Linked DNA regions of Homo sapiens. The protein of the gene in region 1 interacts with the protein of each later gene in a pairwise test. Each region holds a gene or a part of one and is shown on either strand. Other genes may lie near its edges.

What was found. Proteins that work in one complex are often made in the same cells at the same time.
Region 2: the proteins of KRTAP1-5 (region 1) and DMRT3 interact in binary tests that used the Homo sapiens proteins (3 or more experiments, as listed by UniProt).

Annotation. Positions count from the first base shown.
Region 1 is NC_000017.11:41,025,526-41,028,552, forward strand, and holds KRTAP1-5 (keratin-associated protein 1-5), read right to left. Parts: upstream 1,684-3,027; 5' UTR 1,631-1,683; coding exon 1,106-1,630; 3' UTR 501-1,105; downstream 1-500. UniProt on the Homo sapiens protein: In the hair cortex, hair keratin intermediate filaments are embedded in an interfilamentous matrix, consisting of hair keratin-associated proteins (KRTAP), which are essential for the formation of a rigid and resistant hair shaft through their extensive disulfide bond cross-linking with abundant cysteine residues of hair keratins.
Region 2 is NC_000009.12:986,655-989,443, reverse strand, and holds part of DMRT3 (doublesex- and mab-3-related transcription factor 3), read right to left. Parts: intron 1-2,789. UniProt on the Homo sapiens protein: Probable transcription factor that plays a role in configuring the spinal circuits controlling stride in vertebrates.

The DNA.
Region 1 (3,027 bases):
GGCCAATGATCCTCAATAAAAGAAAAGCTCCCACATTTGCTTTCGACTTGGAAATATGTGTCTTTTTACCATTACTTAACTTTTTAATGCACTTTATGTCTTCTTTGGTGTCATATATAGGAAATTGCCATTTTGAGAGCTTGCTGCAGTTTATTGCATAGTGTAATGGAGTGCAGTAGCATGATCTTAGCTCACTGAAACCTCTGCCTCCTGGGTTCAAGCGATTCTCCTTCCTCAGCCTCCCAAGTAGCTGGGACTACAGGTGTGCACTACCACGCCCAGCTAATTTTTTTTTTTTTTTTTTGTATTTTTAGTAGAGACAGGGTTTCACCATGTTGCCCAGGCTGGTCTCAAACTCGTGAGCTCAGGTAATCCACTCACCTCAGCCTCCCAAAATGCTAGGATTACAGGTGTGAACCACTGCTCTTGGCCTCAAGTAGACATTCTTGAATTATAAGCAGTTAAACCAGGTGATGTACAAGTGAAAACAAAGACAATGGTTTCTTTGCCTAGTATATAATATTTATTAAGAAATGACAGAAGACATTGTATCACAGATATAACTGAAATATCCAGCAGGCAAGATCATTATGATCCAAAAACCAAGGGATGGATCAGATGTTAAAATGTGGAAAGTCCAGCCTACTTCTTAGAAGCTGAATGTTGGGTGATGAGCTTCCATTCTCTCTGGTGACTTGAGGAATGTCACTTGGCTATAATTTGGTGTCTTTGATGTTGCAAAAAATTTTAGGTAAACAAGATAAAATAGATTATAAAGCATGGAAACATTAGACTTGTGGATAGTTCTCATGGATAAATTCCACAACATGTCAGTAATTTTTAATCCTGCAGAAATATCAGAAATAGTATATCCCAAGCAAATTGATGATCAGCAGGTGGCTTTGTAGCATTTCTGTGTCCCCAGTGAAGGGTCAAGGTATTCATTGTAGAATGGAATCAGATAGAATTGTGAGCTCATATACTTAGTAGTCTCCATCACAAGCAATGCAAAGTCTGAGAACTTGTTAGTGGTCCAGAGGTGGTCAAGGGATGAACAGTTCAGAGACACTGTGACCTAGGCAATTGAAAATAAGCAAACTGGCTTTCAGCAAGTGGGCTCACAGCAGCAGACTGGGCGGCAGCAGGACTGTCCACAGTAGGACGGGCGGCAGCAGGAGGCCTGGGCATGGTGCAGTTGGCAGCAGGATGGGGGCGTGCAGCTCACCACACAGCAGGGGGGTAGGTAGGTGCCCTCCACACGACTGTCTGGGCGGCACCACCTGATACGGGTGCTCACAGCTCCACTGCTGCCCTCCTGGCCATAGCTGATGCCACCACCAATGCCACAGCCAGTTCCGCAGGAGCTGATCTGGCAGCAGCTTGGCTGGCAGCAGCTGGTCTCACAGCAGCTTGGCTGGCAGCAGCTGGTCTCACAGCAGCTTGGCTGGCAGCAACTGGAGCTGCAGGTCCCACTGGTTGAGAAGCTGGGAAATCCGCAGAAGCTAGTCTGGCAGCTGCGTGGCTGGCAGCAGCTGGTCTCACAGCAGCTTGGCTGGCAGCAGCTGGAGCCACAGGTCCCACTGATGGAGAAGCTGGGATATCCACAGAAGCTGGTCTGGCAGCAGGTCATGGTGTCAGAAGTTGGGTTAAGAGTTAGGTTGCTTGGAGGAGTTTCTGAGGTTTGGTGGTGACTTCCACGTTGGTCCTTTTATATATCTGAACCAGCTGCTGTTTACAAAATTGTTAACATATTTTCTTTGTTTTTGTTTAAATTTGTTACTCCGTGGATCTCTGATTGGCTTATGTTGAAATACTTGTGACACATTATGAGCAATAGTTTAGAAATTACTGTTTTATAGTTTCTTCTGGACTCCTCATATCAGTCCTTTGCTCTTTGGAATATGTTTGTGGTTTCCCATGTTCAAAGAGTACTTCCATTTTAGTCCAAATGAATGCTCTCATTTTACATAATAGTTATTCCACGTGACAATCTATCCATACCTCTAAGGCTAAGAGTAATAATTGTGCTGTTATATTTAACTATTATTTTTTCCTCCTAGATATATAGACTAAATTTTATTGAATTTTGGATATCTGGATATCTACTGAACTGAAGGAATACCTTTGGTCATACATAATTCGCAGATTTCACCTTTTTTTGTTCCAATGTCTTATTGAATTACCGATTATAGTTCCTTTGATTTCAACCAATTTGGAATGTGTGACTATTATTCCTGTTCCAGACCAGAAATCTGTTCTTGGGAACCAAACTGACATAGTATTTAGGAAGGTATCCAGCAGAGTCCTTAGTTTGTGGTAGAACCTTAATAAATGTTTACTGAATCTGATTCAATAAATGTTTATTGAATAGGTGGAGTAAAAGGCTTGATTCATGGATATCAATACCACTCAAACATGATTAAAGAGAACTTTCAAGCTGTAGTACTTCTCATGAAAGAGTCTTGTTATTTGCTGTAAAGAGACTAGGAAATGTGTTTTTTGGTTTATTTTATTTTATTTTTTGGATTTAGTAGTGGAACCGGGCTCGGGAAAAAATATCTAGGAGTTATGACACTTTGAAAAATGTACTGCCATCTACTTTATTCCTCTTGGAAATTGCATAATTTTGTGTGTAATCCATCATTGCTACCAATTAAATATAGAGGTAAGTTCTGGGAGCTTGTAAATAATGTGGAAAACGTGTTTCTTTCTATATTTGCATCCTATTGTATTTTGTGTATTACACTCTAATGCCTAATGAAGAATTTAAAAATTAAATGGTAAAATATGTTTTGTTTTGTTCTAGGTTGTGTTAATTTTTTTTTTTGAGACAGAGTCTTGCTTGTTGCCCAGGCTGGAGTGCAGTGGCGTGATCTTGGCTCACTGCAAGCTCTGCCTCCCAGGTTCACGCCATACTCCTGCCTCAGCCTCCCAAGTAGCTGGGACTGCAGGCACCCACGACCACACCTGACTAATTTTTTTTTTGTATTTTTAGTAAAGACTGGGTTTCACCATATTAGTCAGGAT
Region 2 (2,789 bases), on another chromosome or scaffold:
ATCCATTGAAATCTTTCATAAGAAGCCACTTGAGGCATTGGCAAACTTGGTTGCCAATAACTTGTACTAGAAAGCAAACGAAACCAGCTATGAATTCCGGATGGCAGGATAAGTTGCTGGAGAGGAAAAAAGGAAGTGGCTAGAAAGGGTTTGTTAAATTGCACGGGGGCATTATTATCCATCAATGAAACAACGCATCACACTCCACCGCCACGGGTGGCACGAGGCAGATACCTGTGCATGAACTGTTTTGCTGGTACAGTTCATGGAAAGGACTTGAAGATACCTTTTTTTAAAGCCAGTGAAATTTGAAGATACCTTTTTATATTATATGAAAAGAAGAAGGAGGGAAAAAAAGGCTTCCCAAATAAAGCAGAGACTTGCGATAAAGTAAACCAGTTGCAAATTTAACATCTTGACCTAAGAACATTTTTACTTAACAGCTGGTAATATTGCAGGGCTAAGCACACAGAAAAGAGTAAGTCAGAGTGGTTTGCTTTGCAGTAGTAAATTCCAACAGGACTTTATAATAAAGAAACATATTTTTTAGTAGCAAGCTATTTGCAAATAGAGTTTTGTCCTTTTTTGAAACACGCGCTGGCTGTGGCTACTCAAAGCCAGGGTAGCTGATCGAAAGATGAAAATTCCTAATGACCCAGTTGTTGAGTTGTAAACAATTGCTTTGCCTGTGTTTTCTGCTGCCCTGCCTGAATAGCTTCATTGTTGCCTTCTCTGTGGGCACACCTGATTATATACAGATAGCCAGCCGGTGAAATTTCATCAAAGCACCCTCTAGAAACAATCTTCTCCTACACTTGTCATTTTAAAAGCCTTAAGGGCCTACTTATGAACATTCTTCTAATACAGGTGTATCTTAAGTGTAACCAAAAAACAAAACTTTGTGAAATTTCATCAAAGCACCTTCTAGAAACCATCTTCTCCTACACTTGTTATTTATTTTAAAAGCCTTAAAGGCCTACTTAGAAACATTCTTCTAATACAGGATGTATCTCAGATGTAACCAAAAACCAAAACTTTGGCCTTTAACAAAGCAATAAATATGTGGCAAACATAAGTAAATACACTTTAAAACACTCTTCAATTACCTCAGTGCAAGTGTCAACATACATCTGATAGGAATTCATACTTATCCCAAATTTGCATTTTAATTAAACTGCTTCTTTTTTAATATAAAATATAAGGTTTCCAATGAGAGGTTCATTTGCGTCACATACATATGAAGCCATCTTCACTTTATATAATGACTCTATAGAAAGACTCTACTGTAGAATGACTCTATTTTTGTAAGAGAAATTTGACATATTCTCTCCTACAACTTCTTAGGATGGGGGACACAGCTTTTACCTCTTGAGTTAATGTGGTATTTGAACTCATGTCCTTGATTCAAAAGAGAAAAACAGCAACAAAAAGGCTTCTATAGATTTACTTTATAATCAGCTAGATCTATTTAAATGTTCCTGACTCATGACCCATACATACTTCTTGGCTGTTACTCTATTATTAAACATTTGAAAATTATTAAACACTTGAAAAGTGATAGCATATTAATATACTATCACTTTTAGAAATTGGAAAAACAAGTCAAATACTCTCCCCATGTAAATATGGACATAAAGTACTTCTTTAAAATACTATGTACTTCTAAACAGTTTCCTTATTTTTTAATTTTAGCGTAATTATCAGCACCAAGTATTTATATTTCTGCACGATACTGGGAGAAACAGAATAAAGGATGAAAAACACCAAGAAGTGTAAGACCCACACCTAGCTTATGGACCTTATCTTCTAGCTGGGGAAATAAGACACACATGCAGGAGAAGAAGCAAACAGGGCCTGGCAGCATTTGCTAAGCCTCAAATATGACACACATTGTATACCAATGTTCATGGCAGCAGCATTCACAATAGCCAAAAGGTGAAAGCAACCCAAATGTCCATCAGTGCATGAATGTATAAAACGTGGTGTACACACACACACACACACACACACACACACACACACACACACACAGTGGGATATTATTCAGCCTTAAAAAGGAATGGAATTCCAATACATGCTATAACATGGATGAACCTTGAGAACATTAGGCTAAGTGAAATAAGCCAGACACAAAAGGACAAATACTGTATGACTCTACTTATATTCGATACCAAGAATAGGGAAATTCAGAGAGAAAGTAGTGTGGTGGTTGTCAGGGGCTGGAGGAAAAGGGAATGGGGAGTTATTGTTTCATGGGTATGGAGTTTCCGTCTGGAATGATGAAAAGGTTCTGAAGATGGATGGTGGTGATGGTTGCACAACATTTTGAATAAATGCCACTGAATTGTGCCCCTAAAAATGGTTAAAATTGTAAACTTTATGTTATATATACTTTACCACAATAAAAAAAGAAAAATATATGCCACACAGTGTCATAGTAATATAGAGAATGAAGAGATTTTTTTAAGCAAGAGAAACAACTAGTCCTTCTTGGGAATAAAGCGTACATAGGCACAGCTGGAAAGCTCAAAGCTCAACTTTTTTTTTTTTTTTGAGACAGAGTCTCACTCTGTCACCCAGGCTGGAGTGCAGTGGCATGGTCTCGGCTCACTGGAAACTCTGCCTCCTGGGTTCAAGTGATTCTCCCGCGTCAGCCTCCCGAATAGCTGGGACTACAGGTGTGTGCCACCACACCCAGCTAATTTTTGTATTTGTAGTAGAGACAGGGTTTCACTATGTTGGCCAGGCTCCTCTCGAACTCCTGACCTCATGATCCACCCGCCTCAGCC